2 separate regions of the Homo sapiens genome follow, and region 2 is linked to region 1. Evidence: fine-mapped expression QTL. A gene starts in region 1. The other region holds a variant in brackets. All regions are shown on one strand. Distances are from middle to middle. Region 1 holds the start of FCHSD1 (FCH and double SH3 domains 1). Region 2 overlaps PCDHA1 (protocadherin alpha 1).

Region 1 (8,309 bases):
CTTCCCTCTTTGTATGCTCCATTCCTATAGCTGTGACCCTCTCTCTCCCTCTGATTCCATTCTGATCACCCCAGCTACTTGTCCTGCACTGACGAGGATGAAATGTGGGATTGGACCACCAGCATCCTTAAAGCCCAGGTGAGGGGAAAGAAAAGGCTGAGGGCTGGGTCTGTGGTCCCCCTGGGGCCCAGCTGTCCTCCTCAGTGCCTTTCATGCCCACTGATGCCAACCCCTCACGCTCCCACCAGCACGATGACCAGCAGCCAGTGGTCTTACGACGCCATTCCTCCTCTGACCTTGCCCGTCAGAAGTTTGGCACTATGCCTTTGCTGCCTATCCGTGGGGATGACAGTGGAGCCACCCTCCTCTCTGCCAATCAGACCCTGGTAAGGCACCCCACCCTGCCCCAACCCGATTCCTGTCGTGTAGCCCTTGTCACATTGCAGTAGGCAGTGGTGTGCCTGCTAGCCTGGTGCCACCCTATGCTCACTGTCCCCCTCCCTTCTGCCTTCTTCACCCCCATTCCCCACCCCTGTCTCCTGTTGCTAGTCCTCACTGTGTCTTTATGTCTTTCCTTCCCCTTGTCCCCACCCCACCTGTGTCCAGCGGCGACTACACAACCGGAGGACCCTGTCCATGTTCTTTGTGAGTATTGTGCCTGCTCCAGCGGTGTGCCTGTCAACCCTGTATTCCTCTGTGCTGCCTGAGCCCCGGGTGTGCTGTTTTCCTCATGTAGGCCATCAGGGGGTGTGTGTGTGTGTGTGTGTGTGTGTGTGTGTGTAGGCCATCAGGGTGTGTGTGTGTGTGTGTGTGTGTGTGTGTGTAGGCCATCAGGGTGTGTGTGTGTGTGAGAGAGAGAGAGGGAGAGCGAGGAAAAGGGAGAGGGAGAGGGACAGGACAGAGAGAGAGAGGAGGCCAGAAAGAATGAGGAAAATGAGGGATGTAAGATGCAGTAATAAAAGGAGAAAGGTCGGGCACAGTGGCTCATGCCTGTAATCCCAGCACTTTGGGAGGCTGAGGTGGGTGGATCCCCTGAGGTCAGGAGTTCAAGACCAGTCTAATCGACATGGTGAAATCCCGTCTCTACTAAAAATACAAAATTAGCTAGGTGTGGTGGTGCATGCCTGTGATCCCAGCTACTTGGGAGGCTGAGGCAGGAGAATCACTTGAACCTGGGAGGCGGAGGTTGCAGTGAGCCAAGATCGCACCACTGCACTCCAGCCTAGGCAACAAGAGTAAAACTCTGTCTCAAAAAAAAAAAAAAAGGAAAAAGTTGTCACAGAATCTGTGAAATAGAAGGAAAGTGATGAAGTGAATGCATTTTGGAGTTAGACAGACCTGGGTTCAAACCCCAGCTCTACCATTCACTCATTATGTGATGCTGGGCAACTTACTTAACCCCTTTGCATTCAGTTGACTCAGTGTAACCCACTGCACAGGGTTGTTCCAGAATCATACATGCCAAGTATTTTACAGCATCTGGCCCAGAGGAAGAGCTCAGTAAATGTTAGTGATTCATAATCTGGTAACTTTAACTATGTGCCCACTCCTGCCATTCCATTCCCATCCAGCCAATGAAGTCATCCCAGGGGTCTGTGGAGGAGCAAGAGGAGCTGGAGGAGCCTGTGTACGAGGAGCCAGTGTATGAGGAAGTAGGGGCCTTCCCTGAGTTGATCCAGGACACTTCTACCTCCTTCTCCACCACACGGGAGTGGACAGTGAAGCCAGAGAACCCCCTCACCAGCCAGAAGTCATTGGATCAACCCTTTCTCTCCAAGTCAAGCACCCTTGGCCAGGAGGAGAGGCCACCTGAGCCCCCTCCAGGCCCCCCTTCAAAGAGCAGTCCCCAGGCACGGGGGTCCCTAGAGGAACAGCTGCTCCAGGAGCTCAGCAGCCTCATCCTGAGGAAAGGAGAGACCACTGCAGGCCTGGGAAGTCCTTCCCAGCCATCCAGCCCCCAATCCCCCAGCCCCACTGGCCTTCCAACACAGACACCTGGCTTCCCCACCCAACCCCCATGCACTTCCAGTCCACCCTCCAGCCAGCCCCTCACATGACCCTAGGACCAGCAGTCTGAGAGGGTAGGTACCAGAAGACCCAGAAACTCTTATCGTGGCACTGTTGCAGCTTCCTCTGCCCTGGCTGGAAAGACTCCAGAATCCAGTGTGGTGCTGTGGAAGGAGCACTGGACTAAAGGCTTCAGTGGCTGCGTGTCCCAGGACAGGTCATGGCCCCTCTCTGGGCCCAGCCCATTTATCTATACCATGAGGTAACTGAAGTAAGGAGAGCAGTGAATGTCAAACTGTGTTTCTTAGAGCCATAAGCCCCACATATTATCCCTGAACAAGGGCAGCTCCTGCTTTATATATTTGATACGTAGGGGTTCCATGAGAGATTTTGGGTTTTAAAGGAATGGTTTTACTGCATTAAAGAAAAAAAATGCTTTGGAAACCAGAGGCCTGGGTGATGTTAAAGTCTATCCTGTCCCACTTCCTACATTCTGGGACTACCGTGAAGCCTGGAGTAGGGAGAGCGAGTTTGGGAGCTGGGACTCGGGGAGTCAAAAATAGATGAGTAATTGTCAATAAACCTGGGAACCAAAAGACTACCATTCTCATTCATTCATTCAACAAATATGTATTGTGCACCTAATTGGTGCCAGGTCTGGGGATATAGCATGAACAAAACAAACAGGGCCCCTGCTCTTATGAATCCTCCGTTGTGGAGGGGAACAGAAAATAGCAAATAAACACATAAACCAGTACTTGAACAAGTGAGTTTAGTGCTGTGAAGAAACTGAACCAAAGTGATGAGCTTGAAGAGTGATTGTGGAGGCCAGGCGCAGTGGCTCACACCTGTAATCCCAGCACTTTGGGAGGCTGAGGGGGATGGATTACCTGAGGTCAGGAGTTTGAGACCATCCTGGCAAAGATGGTGAAACCCTGTCTCTACTAAAAATACAAAATTAGCTGGTTGTGGTGGCACGTGCTTGTAATCCCAGCTACTCGGGAGGCTGAAGCAGAAGAATCACTTGAACCTGGTAGGTGGAGGTTGCAGTGAGCCGAGATTGCACCATTGCACTCCAGCCTGGCAACAGAGCAAGACTCCATCTCAAAAAAAAAAGAGTGATTGTGGAGATGGTCTTTGGATGGGTGGATGGGGAAGGCATCTGTGAAGAGTTGCAAAGTAAGGGAAAGAAGCTGTTGGAGGCGACAGATGGAACGCTGGAAGGAGGAGATTCTGGAGAAAGAAAGCAGGCATGAAGAACTCTGCATTGGAAGGGACTTGGTCTACTGAGGGAACAGCAAAGAGGCTGGAGCACAGTGAGCAGACAGTGGGAGGAGAGTACAGGCTGAAGTAAGAAAGACCAGCAGGGTCTTCCATGCGTAGCCTTGAAGGCCATGGATTCTATTTGGATTTTATTCTGAAGCAAGTGCATTTTAAGCAAGTAAATTATGAGATCTTATTTCCCTTTAAAAAAGAAAAAAAAGGTTGATCACTCTGAGTGCTGTGTGAACAGTGGGTTGGGGTGAGGGCAGTGTGGAAGCAAGGAGATCAGATATTAGACCAGAAGTCTAATAATGGGGGCTTGGACTAGGATGGTGGTCTTGGAAATTGAGGGAAGTGGATCAAGAGGTTTTTGTTTGTTTATTGTTGTTTGAAATAGAACCTGTAGGACTTACTGATGGATAGAATGTAGGGGTAGGAGAAGGCACATTGACTCTGGGTTTCTGACTTAACTGACTGGAGGAAATGCGGTGCCATTTAAAACGTTACGGGGGGAGGATCAGGTTGAAGGAGGTTTAAAAGCTTTAAAAGTTGAGGTTCCTATTAGATATACTAGCAGAGGTGTCAGTGGGGAGTTGGAATGTGAATCTGGAGTTTTGAGACATGTCAGGGGTACTGGGACAGGTGCCTGAGCCAAAGAAGCTTAGGTGAGGAGGATGAGGAATTGGGGAGAGGCTCCTCAGGAAGCAGTGCTAGGGCTGGAAGATCCTAAAGGTGGCAGGGGCTTCCTGCGCATCTCCCAGCTCTCGCCGACTCACTGGTATCGTTTAGTTTTCAGTGGGGCCAAGTCTTTTTCCCTTTGGGCCTGGTTCCTTCCTGGATCCAGGCATCTTTCTCACCCCGCTCACGCTGGCTTTTCCAGTTAAGCGGGAATTAGGAAAAGGTCTGGGACCAGCCCTCTCTTCGTCAGATGCATCTTTGCTCAGGTGCCCAGTGACTCAGTTTCCCTGGTCACACACTGAATTCCTCTCCATTCCTCATCATTAGCTCGGGGACTGGGGATCTACATATGCAAATGAATAATTATCAATAATTACAGGCTGAATCAGTGGTTACACTACAAATAGAACTTAGGCGTCTTGACTCAGATGCCTGGGGTTCTTCCCACCGCCCAGCGGACGCTGCGTCCGCCCCGCCCGCCCCGCCACCCGGACCCTGCCGGCGTATTCGCAGCAGTAACAGGTTTAGTTTCTCGGTGGCCCCCTCTCGCTTCCGCGCCCTGCGACGTCGCCGGACAAGTCGTGGGCGGGCAGAGGGCGGGGCCTGACCTGGCCTGGGGCGGGGCTCCATAGTGGGCGGGGCTTCCTCCAGTTCCGGAGTCCAGTGGCTGACCGCCTTGCTGGAGCGGAGATGCAGCCGCCGCCCCGAAAAGTGAGCTTGGCCCTGAATGGGGACTCCTGGCGGGCTGGGGGAACGGAGGGAGCTAAGGGGGCATCCGACTTGTGGTAGGAGACGGGAAGTCGGAAGGGGTCAGACCCCAAACCAGAAGTAACAGAGGAAAGAGCTCAGCACCCCCCCGGCCCCGCCCCCTCACCGCTCCCTGCGCGGAGTGTTTTTTAGGTCCTTGCGCTGGGGTCTTCATCCTCTCTTTGCCCCCACAGGTGAAGCCGGCCCAGGAGGTGAAGCTTCGCTTCCTGGAACAGCTGAGCATCCTTCAGACCTGGCAGCAGAGGGAGGCGGATCTGCTGGAGGACATCAGGTAGCTCCCCCAACCCCCTTCATTTACACTCACCTTCGTCGTTGTGCGCCACTTCTCCCCAATATACATGTGCTGGGGTGGAGGAACAGGGGCCAAGAGCTCCCCAGCCGACCCATCCACAGCCCTCACCCTAGGCCTGGCCTCTCCAGATACTGGATAGGAATGCTCCCCCACCTAACCCCTCCCAACCCCCTCCCACCCACATAAACACACAGGAACCCTCCCTCAAAGCCCTTGACTCCACACCACTGCCCCCAACCCCACAATCAACCTTAGGGCAGAATCCCTCTCCCTCTTCCAGACCTGTTGGAAGGCTGGCAGACATCGTACCCAGGCCCCCATCAGTCTTCACCTCTAAGCCTACAGATGAACCTCTGGGGTGGGGAGGATCCTGCTGGGGCCCGGGGCAGTAAGGTGAGGGTTTCCTGTGTTGCAGCTGCCCGAGGTGATCTCAAGGACTCCCATCAGTCCCATTCCCTCTGGGTGTAGTTACACTCTAGGAACCTGGCTCCCCCCAACCGCTCCCTCCTGCCCAGAGTAGAGGACTGAGGATGGGAGAACAGGACCAAACATAACCTTATCCCCCACCTCACCCCCGACCTGCAATCTCCGCAGATCCTACAGCAAGCAGAGGGCAGCCATTGAACGGGAGTATGGGCAGGTATGGGACTTTTCTCTGGACCTTACCTCTTGTTCCAGCCTCTCTTATATCACCAGTAATGTCTGTCCATACCTATCCCTATTGTGGTCAAGAGCAGATGCCTAGAGTCAAGCAGACTGGTGTCAGATCCCTGCTGTGTAATTATAGCCATGTGACCTTGGACAAGTTACTTAACCTTTCTTGACCTCAGTTTCTTTCTCTGTGAAATGGGAATAATAATAATACCTTACCTTCATGTAGGGTTGTTGTAAGGATTAAACAAATTAATGACTATAAGGCATTTAGCAAAGCAAGTGGCACATAATGTACCCAAAGAATGGTATGATTATACTCTGATGTCATATTCTGCCAGTTGGGGTGGGTCTTTGAAAGGGAACTTGGTTCTGTGATGGCTTTTTCACCAGGCACTCCAGAAACTGGCTGGCCCATTCCTGAAGAGGGAAGGGCACCGGAGCGGTGAGATGGACAGCAGGTGGGCCCTATGGAGGGGGAGGGCCACAGAGGCCAAAAAGTGATGGGGAGCTCAGCCCCAGGAACCTGTGGGGATGAAGGCCTAGCAAGTGGGGAAGGCACGTGAGCTGTAGGTAGAGCTGACACAGCAGCAGCAGAGGAGCTGACCCAGCAAGGACACTGTGGGTGGGGTGGAGGGCAGGAGTGAGGCTTGTGGCTGAGCTAATGGGCTGATCGATTGATGGGCTCCCAGACAAGGGAGGATGGGAAAGCACTCTGTCTCCCATGGTGTTGGTCAGGGGGCAGGGGGTGGGGGTGGTCTCATGAAGCTGTGGAGTGCTCTCCTCCTCAACACAGACCTTCTCTGGGGAGGGGCAGGACAGTGTTCGGTGCCTGGCGCTGCCTGCTGGATGCCACCGTGGCTGGGGGCCAAACCCGACTCCAGGCGTCTGACCGATACCGTGACCTAGCAGGGGGTACAGGGCGGAGCGCCAAGGAGCAGGTGCTTAGGAAGGTATGGCTCAGAGGTTGGGGTGAAGGAAGAGCTGGCTTGGGACCAAAGGTGGTCTAGGTAAGGACTTTGTGTATGCATCCCAATAGGGAACAGAGAACCTCCAGAGGGCGCAGGCTGAGGTGCTGCAGTCTGTCCGGGAGCTGAGCCGAAGTCGGAAGCTGTATGGGCAGCGGGAACGTGTGTGGGCCTTGGCACAGGAGAAGGCGGCTGATGTCCAGGCCAGGTGGGGTCATGGAGAGTGAGGAAGCCCAAGGTTGGGGAACAGGGAGGTGGGGCTGTCTAGGGGTGGAGCCAAGTCACCAAAGCTGGGCCTGACTCTGATCTCATATTCTCCCACTTGGGGTGGGCCTGACTCCTTTCTCTCATCTGCACAGGCTAAACCGAAGTGACCATGGGATCTTCCACTCTCGGACCAGTCTCCAGAAACTGAGCACCAAGGTTCGAGGGATGAGGGCATGAGTGGGGGCAGGGAAGAGGGAGGCAGAGTAGTCTAGTGGTTTGGAACATAGGTGCATATGTATGAAAGACTGGGTTGAATCCAGGCTCTCCTACTTCCTGGGTGGGTAACCTTGGTTAATTTACTTGATCTCTGTGAGCCTTATTTTCTTCTATAAAATGGAGAGAATACCCTTCTTTTTCAGTCCTTTAATATGCATTTATTGAGGATCTGTATATAATAGGCACTGTTCTAGACATTATGGATACAGTGGAGAACACTACCAATGGAGTTCCTGCCCTCACAGTCTGGTTAAGAGAGACAGACAGCAAATAAATACTTAGATTAAGATGAAAATAAAACAAGGTACTATGATAAAGAATAACAAGGGGGTAGAATTTAGAGGGAGGCCTCTCTGAATAGGTGGCCTAACTGTCAAGAAGGAGCTGGCCTTGCAAAGATCTAGGGGAAGAACATTGCAGAGAGAAGAAATGGTGAGTGCAAAGGGTCTGAGGTGGGAATAACTTTGTAGGCTCGAGGAACTGAGAGAGGGCCAGTATGGCTGGAGTACTGTGAGCAAGGGAACAAGCGCTTGAAAAGAGGTCAGAGAGATTGCGGGGGCCAGCTCATATTGAACGTGGTGGACCATGGTAAGGAACAGTGGATTTTATTTTAAATGCGTGCAGAAGGCACTAGAAGATTTTGAGCAGGAGTTGTGTGTATGCAACATTTTTAGTGTAGTGCCAGGCACATAGTAAGCACTCAATAATGTGAGAATCCATTCTGGATCTGGCTTCTCAATTGGTCTTGGAAGGACTCTGGGGGTCTAGGGCTTCCTATTGACATCAGTTTACCCTCCTAGCTGTCCGCCCAGTCAGCCCAGTACTCCCAGCAGCTGCAAGCAGCCCGCAATGAGTACCTGCTTAACTTGGTGGCTACCAATGCCCACCTCGACCATTACTACCAGGAGGAACTGCCAGCTCTGCTCAAGGCCAGTTTTAACCCAGACACCCCTATCCCTCAGCAGGGAGGGAAAGGAGGACCTCCCCCTGCTTCTTGATCCCCATGACAGTGGGTGGTGCAGGGGATCTTGTCTGTTTAGAGTGAGTAGATGATACATACATGCACTCTGGTTCTGCTCCTAGCTGGCTGCATGGCATTGTACAGTACACTTAAACTCTTCCGAACCCCAGATTCCTCATCAGGGATAACCCTTTCTCTGCCTATCTTATAGCACTAGTGGGGCTCAAAGGAGAGAATG
Region 2 (8,335 bases), 790 kb after region 1:
AAGGTGGCCTCATGAAAAACTAGGGTTAAACATTTCCTGAAAGTGTTGTTCCTCATATAAAAATACTATCAAATTTGAATTGTTTTACTTTCAGTCTCCCTTGTTACTTTGGCTGCTAGGGAACTCAAAGAAAAAATTGAAGTTTTATAAAAGCAGCTCTTTAGTGTTTATGTTCCACATGATCTATTCTCATCTCTGTGGGCTTGCATTTTCATATCTATTTTCTATAGTTCTCATTCTTTACTGTTATTTACATTTAATTGCTTTCTGATTATAAGTGACTTTATATTCATTGCAGAACAATATGAAAAACAAATATATTCATATTCTCAAACTTGGTAGTTTTAAAAAAGAATCCACAAAGGAAAAGTCTATTGATCTAGATGAGTTTTTATTTGACATATATTATTTCTAATGTAAGCCATAGTAGCATAATATGAGATATCAAAATTTAGCACTTTATGTAACAGAATCAATGATATGACAGAAATAGGCTTTTCAACTATAAAATAAATTTTATTATCATTTTATAAAATAAATAAAATCACCCTGAACATCTTTGTGCCATATTGGTATTTCCAAGTCACCAACATTGGTTTCCTTAATCTAATTCAGTTATATTCATGAAAATAGTTTGTTTCTTGTTGAAAGAATTTTGGGTTTGGGAGCAGAAGTTCATGGAAAACAAGGGAAGTGATTTTTAATTATACCTTCTGTAAGTACCTGATATTGTGCTTAAAACATAGAAAATTAATCAAACAATTCAACTAAATGGTAAATTACCTTAGTGCTTGTGGAAATGGAATTTCATAGAAAATGCTAAGTAAAATACAGGAATTGCTTATGAGAGTTTTCTTTGCCTGAAGTTGTAACTTGCTTGAATTTTCTTTGTCTTTTCATATACCCTTAGGATTTAGGAGGAAAAAAAGAAGATGCAACAAAATTTTAGAGTAGAAAGTGATTTAGAATAAATATCACTCTAGCTTAAATATTTTGTTCTATAGTTTTGATGGTTTATCTCCAATCTAAAAATACTGCAAGGGCATATGAAAAAGTTATCATATGTGTATGCTAATATTTTATATATATATTCAACTATTAATTTGAGATTTTGTTCTACTTTTTTCATATTTACTCTTTTCCCAATGTTGTCATAACACTAGAACTCTAATTCAGGTAAATGCAAAATTCTGTATTAAAAAATTAAAGGAGACATATCAACTTTTATAACCGTTAATTCCATTACGCATCTGTAAAATAATCAATCATAGTAGCCTCTAATCAAAACATAACATTAGACCAGATGACAGTATATTCAACATGATATTTGAAGCACATCAGGTTTATTTTGAACAAAAGGAAACAACAGATCCTCAATCACCTTATTATGGGAATTGGGGATGAAGATGTTACATGGAATGTGGAGTCTTGCGAGGTAGGGAAATGAACCTTAGAAGGTTTACTCTGGAAAAATGATAATATCACATATTTGAATTAAAACAATATGTTAATTTAGGTGTTAATTTCCAACAATACAGTATTTTGTGAATATATAAAGTAGTACTGAACAAACGCCAAGTCATAAAAGAGTTTGATATAGTGTATGAATCAATGACCCATCTTTTGCATTTTGGCTGTGATATTTCAGATGTCACCATCTCAACCAGCCCCTAGTGAAGAGATTATGCGCCCTTTGAACTCATCTTTGAGGATCAGCCTAATATCTGGGTATAGGCTAATACCAAGAAGTCATTTCAATACAGTTATTGTTAACTGATTTTGTAAAATCAATTGAAGATTAAGGAACTTTGTGCCTGACTTTTACTATATCAGTCAGGACATACAATCTGCCTGTATGTCCTGTTAGTCATATAAGTATTAGAGTGCATAGTTTAATGTCTTACTAGTGCACGTCATCCACTGATATTCTAACAGACCTAGTGCTATTATTTCTTGAAAACACATAAATAAATTTTGACACCGTTGTCAGAACCCCAGGAGGTTCTCCAAAACCAACAGATTAGAATTACATTATCCAACCACTGTATTAACAAAATTATAGGATTTATTCCGTGATGCTAATTCTGCTCTATCATGGCTTAGTCAAGTAAAAACAGTTATTTGGTCACAAATCATTTGTCAGTTGTTATGAGCTTCCCAGCCAACAATAAGACTGAAGAAGACTGAAAGACCTACACACATTTGAAGATTTTCATGGGAATCTATGTCTTTAAAATTGTTATTGAAGTATGCAATATTGTAAACATTTCTTGAATCCTTTGGCCAAGTTCAGGGTCCCTGAAATAATAATATCAACATCTATACTTGTCCCAAACACTGTCTTTATTCACAGTAAAGAAAGAAGGGTGTCATTTTTGGTATATAGTATTTAGTTTAGGTGTTCCACAAGGATATTGGAAACCACAGTTTTCTGACTTTTCTTACATGTTAAACGATTCTTACTTATATCACTTCCAAACAACAGATACGTAGTTCTTATAAGGCAACTCTTAATTACTTAACAATTACATAACCAAAATACCTATCTCAGTGTGGCATTGATTAAAACAAATGATAATGATGATCACGAACTCTTACAAGAAAAAAATCACTTAACATAAAAAAACTTAGTGCCATCTCAATCACACATTGTACAAAATTAATGATGAAGACAATCATGAAGTTTCTTCTAAGCACAACAGAAAGAAAGATTTGCCTGTACACAATTTGTGCTTGATTTTCCTAGCCGAGACCATGTTTGAGCAGAGAAATGACTTACTAAAGAAAGCTCTACATTATAGTGGATAAAAGAATGAGTCTGAAGCCTGAAAGATACACATTTGAATAATATCTCCACCATGTACTGGCACTGGATAAAATAGATACACATCTCAGCTTCTCTTATTTTATCTTTCAAATTGGAACAGTCATATGTACTTTAGAAATTGTTATAAGTATTAAATGAAATAATGTATTTAAGTCCCTTCATGATGTCTAACAAATATATTAATAAACTGCTCAAACAATGGTGATTTATTATCATGAGTTACTGATCAATATTGGCTCTTGTCCTATAGCTATGGATGAAGAGAATTCCAGCACCATAAAGTAGGACAGGGTTTTCCCTTTTCTGAAGATTTCCTTAATGTTTATCTTCATAGAAATCATCTTCTCAGAAGTTATTTTTCTAGGTAGACACTACTAATTCCTTTTCAGCATTTATATTAACTTTACCCTACCTATAACATGGTTATCCTGCAATATGTAAATATACTATTTCTTTACACAGAATTAAAGGCCATCTCATTTGTAATTAGAGCCAAAAAGAGCAAAGTAATTTTACATATAATTTGATACACATCCTTACAGCTATAAATACGTGTTCTCTGGGATCCCTTTAAAGAAAGCAATTCACATTAATATGGTGTGAAGGCAAAAAATATTTTGCATCAAATATATCAAAAGTATACAATGTTAAATTCTAAGGTATAATTAACACCACAATTGTCAAGTGGAAGTGCCTTTATTAATATCCCATGGTTCTTATACTTAAGTTATTAAAAACAATGACATTTTTTGGTAGAGATGGGGGTCTCACTATGTTGCCGAGGCTGGTCTCAAACTCCTGGTCTCAAGCGATCCTCCTCCCTCGGCTTCCCAAAATGCTGGGATTACAGGCCTGAGACACCCTGCCAAGCTCAGCAATGCCATTCTGAAGACCATGCAGCTTAATGAACACAGACAATGGTATCACCCTTCATCATGTATGGGAAGACTCTCTTATACTTAAAGCCCAAATAAGTGTGAATTTTCCTACCCTAAAATATTTTCATACAGCCAGGTACCAAAAATGAAAGAAAAATGAGTATAATCGGTGCTCAAAGAAATCTTCCCAAAATAGTAGAAGAGCTCAACAACTTAAACTGGAGGACAGCAGCAATTAAGTCAACAGGTAATTAAGTAGAGCTGACATTGTTTTGTTTTGTTTTCTTTTTAAAAAAGAACAAAGTTGTTGGCTATCTGAAGTAGTTGAAGATTGTGAAGACAATGACCTAAAATGAAATTATAAGAAGATTGAAGACAAAAATTAAGAAGTAAAATCACCTTTAAAGGCAAGGCTAAAATTCCACCCACTGCAATCAACATCTCAAAAAAGATGGATATTGATCATGAAGAAACAAAATTGTTTGTGGACGAAGCTGCCTCAACCCTGCTCATCACCATTTGTGAGAGATAAACTTATCGATTATAGAAAGATAAACATTTAAACATGTTTTAAACTCAAATAATTATGATATTAAATATTGTCATGGTATTTTTGAATACATAAAAACAATAAGGAATGGAGGACACAAATCAGAATAAGAAAATGAATAGGAATAAAGAACTTGCTTCAAAATTGAGAAGATTTGACCTTCTCATAAGGATCATTATTCATCATGATCCTTCCGGTAAGATTTAACTTTCTCATTTACAGGAAACAGCCACTCAGTCTAATTCATTATTACTATTATCATTATACTTATCAACTGAAGAATATTCCTAAAGAATGTTCATGGTGACTGTAGTAAAAAGTGATTAAGATGGCTAGACTTCCAATGTACTTTTTTTTTTAAGACAGAGTTTCACCCTGTCTCCCAGGCTGTAGTGCAGTGGCCTAATCTAGGCTCACCGCAACCTCTGCCTCCTAGGTTCAAGCAATTCTTGTGCCTCAGCCTCCTGAGTAGCTGGGATTACAGGTGCGCACCACCACACCCAGCTAATTTTTTTATATCTTTAGTAGAGATGGAGTTTCACCATGTTGGCCAGGCTGGTCTCAAACTCCTGGCCTCGAGTGATCCGCCCGCCTCGGCTTCCCAAAGTGCCGGGATTACAAATA[G/A]GCATGAGCTACCGCACCCGGCCCCAGTGTACTTTAAATAAAGCATCTCAAAAGAAAAAGCAAAAGCAAAATAAATAAAGCAATCAAATTAATAACTTGGTGAACATTATCAATGTCACTATGAGGGACATTAATAGGAATGAAATACTTTCCAGGATTACAGTACTTATATTCTCAAAAATTTCCTATTGAAGTCCATCTCCAAAATCTGAACCATGGGAGAACACTAGGACTAAAAGCCGTAATGTTGACCTTGGGAGGCGACTCTCCAGAGTAAAATCTCCTTTGCTGCGAGTAAGACCAGATCCCACTACGCTGCGGTACACCAGCGTGGGCTTGCCCGGCATGCACGAGCTCTCGGTGAGCTGCGCCAAGCACCGCAGCGTCGTGTACAGCAGCAACGTGAGCACTAACAGGCTGGACACCACGCAGATGGCGATGATCAGGTACACGTTGACATCCACCAGCGCTGCCTCCCGGACCTCGACGCCCGCCAAAGCCCGCGATGGGACCTTCCTCGCTTGGCTGCTCTCCGCCAGCGACGCCACCACGGTGACGGTGGCAGTCAGCGCCAGCTCGCAGTGGTCCTTCACCAGCACCAGCAGGCGGTGGCGCGTAGCTTTCGCCTCGTCCAGGGTACTCGTCGTGCTGATCTCGCCCGTGCAGAGCCCCACGTGGAACGGGTGCTGCCAGCTGACAGATGCAGCTGTTGCGACAACCAGGCGTCATAGCTGGAGTCCACCGTGCGCACCTTCGCCACCAAGTGGCCTGCATCCACTGAATACCGCACCAGCTCACTCACAGCGCCGCCAGCCCACCCAAGGCGCCAGCAGCGCAGACAAAGTTGTCGTTCCAGCACTAATACCTGGCAGCGTCACATTGCTGCTCAGAGGCGGCATGCCCGCGTCGCGCGCTCTCACCTAGAACTGCAGCAGCTCCAGCTCCTCGTAGTCCAGTGGCTGCAACGCGTACCTCTTGCCGCTCTCCGCGTGCACCCACACATAGCTAGACAGCGCGCACTCGCCCACCCGCTGTTCCATCAACGAGTAGGACACCAGCACGTTCTCCTGCGCGTCCCGGTCCCGCGCGGACACTGTGAAGTCGTGGCAGCCCCGCGGGTTGTTACCTTTCACGAACACCATGTACTCGGGCTGCTGGAACGCCAGGGCATTGTGGTTCACTGTTCGGCCACTTCCACGGACCCGATGGCTGTGGCCAACAATGAAAGCGAGTCCCCATTCCGAGCGATTACCAACAATGGATAGATTTGCTCTCTTGGTCCAGGGCGCTGTGGAGTACCAACGAATAGTTTCTGGGCAGCGCCTTTTGAAGGTAGACACCAGCTTGAAGAGACGTGAGGAGTCAGGGTGCGGGTCGTCTGTCCCTTGGCACTGAAGTTAGGGTCAATTACACTGATTAGGGCTATGACGGTACCCAGTGGAGCGTCCTCCTGTACAGGGAATGATAGTGACTTACTGCTAACTCTGGAACACTATCATTGATGTCCAAGACTTCTATCAAGTCTGTGCAGTGATCAAACATTGGGGAATTGCCTGTGTCAACTGCCTGTATTTGAATCTTTCATTATTTAGTTTCCTCAAAACCTATCTTTACATTTATTTATCCACTGTCTGAATCTATGCGAAAAAGGGCTTCTATGTTAGGGGAGACATCAGTTGCAAAGAAACAATGTGACGGTTTGAACCCTCGTCAAAATCCAAGGGGTTAAGTCTAATAACCAGTGTACCTTCTCTTGCATTTTCCAGTAATTTCACATGATAGACTCCTTTGTCAAACACTGGGCATCATCATTTACATCCAGCGCTGTGATATATAATGCTTTGGTGCCTGTCAGCTCAGCTTCGCCCCCATCAGTTGCTTTGAGCACCAAGAGTAGCTCTGAAGTGACTTACCTATCTGAAAGAATTTTTAAAATACACCTTCAAGTGGTTTTACCTGCTCTTGGTATTTCCAGGGAAAAATAATCATTGCGGCACAGTATGTAAGTCATCAGAGCATTGGCCCCGACGTCGGCATCACAGACACCCTCTAGTGAAACACGATAATCAAGAGCTCTCGTTTCAGAAACAGATTCTTTTGTGTTGCTGAGAACACTGGCAGGTTGTCTTTATTGTTCTTCACTTTCACCTCCACATGGAAAACCTGTAGCAGCTTGTCCACGATCACTTCCAGGTGGATGCTGCACTCCGAGATCCTCCCACACAGCTCCTCGAGGTCTATCAGAGAACTCACAAAAATGCCATTCTGCAGATTTACCTCCAGAAGGTTTCTGCGGCTTTTGGAATCCAACTGAAACAGGCGCGGTATCAGCTCCACAAGCTCCAGACCCAGGTCCTGCGCAATAGGGACCGCGAAGACGCTATGTGCCGTCCTTGGCCTCTTCCAGGATGGTGTAGTGGAACTGGTCCTTTCCCGCTTCACAAAATTCAAGGAGCAGAAGCCAGTGCTGTAGGCTCCGGGATTCCTGGCCACTTTGTCTAGCAGCTAAAATTATGCCTCTCTTTTGGTTAGTAAAACAATATTTCATGACTAGAAAGACTTAGTTCCTCTGAGACCTTTTGGTCCTTGTTCCTGAGGTTCCAAGTGGTCTTAATGGGTGTTTGTAGTTTTTAAAGTACAGGAACAATGGAGCTTCTTTCTGATCTAGGAATAATCTGATTTTCTTCTGTTAAAAAAAATACCTTTCGGCCGGGTGCGGTGGCACTCGGCCAGCACTTTGGGAAGCCGAGGCCGGTGGATCACGAGGTCAGGAGATCTAGACCATCCTGGCTAACACGGTGAAACCTCGTCTCTACTAAAAATACAAAAAATTAGCCTGGCGTGTTGGCGGGCACCTGTAGTCCCAGCTACTCCGGAGGCTGAGGCAGGAGAATAGCGTGAACCTGGGAGGCGGAGCTTGCAGTGAGCCGAGATCGTGCCACTGCACTCCAGCCTGGGCAACAGAGCGAGACTCCGTCTCAAAAAAATAAAAAATAAAAAACAAAAAAACCAAAAAAACTTTTCATGGAGAACAACAATATCCTGTCGCTCAAAACATAAGTGCATTTGATTTCATATTATTTCACTTATCTTCTTCGTTCCTGATTCCTGCATATGTTTATGTTTCTCTTTGTGAGCTTCCAACTCCTTTCCTATACCTTCTTGTGTATGATCAGTACCTCTTCAAAGGTGGGTTTGTCTTACAAATCAGAATTCCATGAAGAGTTTTATCTTGTATGTAGACATCCTAAATAAAGTACTACTGCACCAACTGTATTATCACGTGAATTAATATGAAAAAGATCATATTTGCAGGATAATGGTGTTACTATTGCTTTTGCTTTTTTCAATTTTTGAAATAGGGTCTCACTTTGTCATCCAGGCTGGAGTGCAGTGGCACAATCATGGGTCACTGCAGCCTCAACTTCCCAGGCTCAAGCCGTCCTCCCACCTCAC

What was found.
Region 2: its variant is fine-mapped to the expression of FCHSD1 in whole blood (INTERVAL, PIP above 0.99).

Annotation. Positions count from the first base shown.
Region 1 is chr5:141,647,698-141,656,006 of GRCh38, reverse strand. FCHSD1 (FCH and double SH3 domains 1) reads left to right here and starts at 4,589. Exons shown (of 20, transcript NM_033449.3): 1 at 4,589-4,659; 2 at 4,890-4,987; 3 at 5,603-5,648; 4 at 6,053-6,120; 5 at 6,471-6,612; 6 at 6,699-6,835; 7 at 6,987-7,050; 8 at 7,911-8,039. The coding sequence starts at 4,639. It overlaps ARAP3 (ArfGAP with RhoGAP domain, ankyrin repeat and PH domain 3), which reads left to right. Exons shown (of 33, transcript NM_022481.6): 30 at 75-138; 31 at 249-386; 32 at 607-645; 33 at 1,572-2,605. The coding sequence ends at 2,057. RefSeq lists an enhancer at 5,989-6,567.
Region 2 is chr5:140,860,280-140,868,614 of GRCh38, reverse strand. The region is part of intron 1 of PCDHA1 (protocadherin alpha 1); the gene reads right to left. All of the region lies in intron 1 of PCDHA2 (protocadherin alpha 2), which reads right to left. The region is part of intron 1 of PCDHA3 (protocadherin alpha 3); the gene reads right to left. The region is part of intron 1 of PCDHA4 (protocadherin alpha 4); the gene reads right to left. It also overlaps PCDHA5, PCDHA6, PCDHA7, PCDHA8, PCDHA9 and PCDHA10, and 3 more genes. Among named protein-coding and RNA genes, the nearest start is that of PCDHA11, 4.5 kb to the left of the region's middle. The variant G/A (reference allele first, on the strand shown) is at 4,880.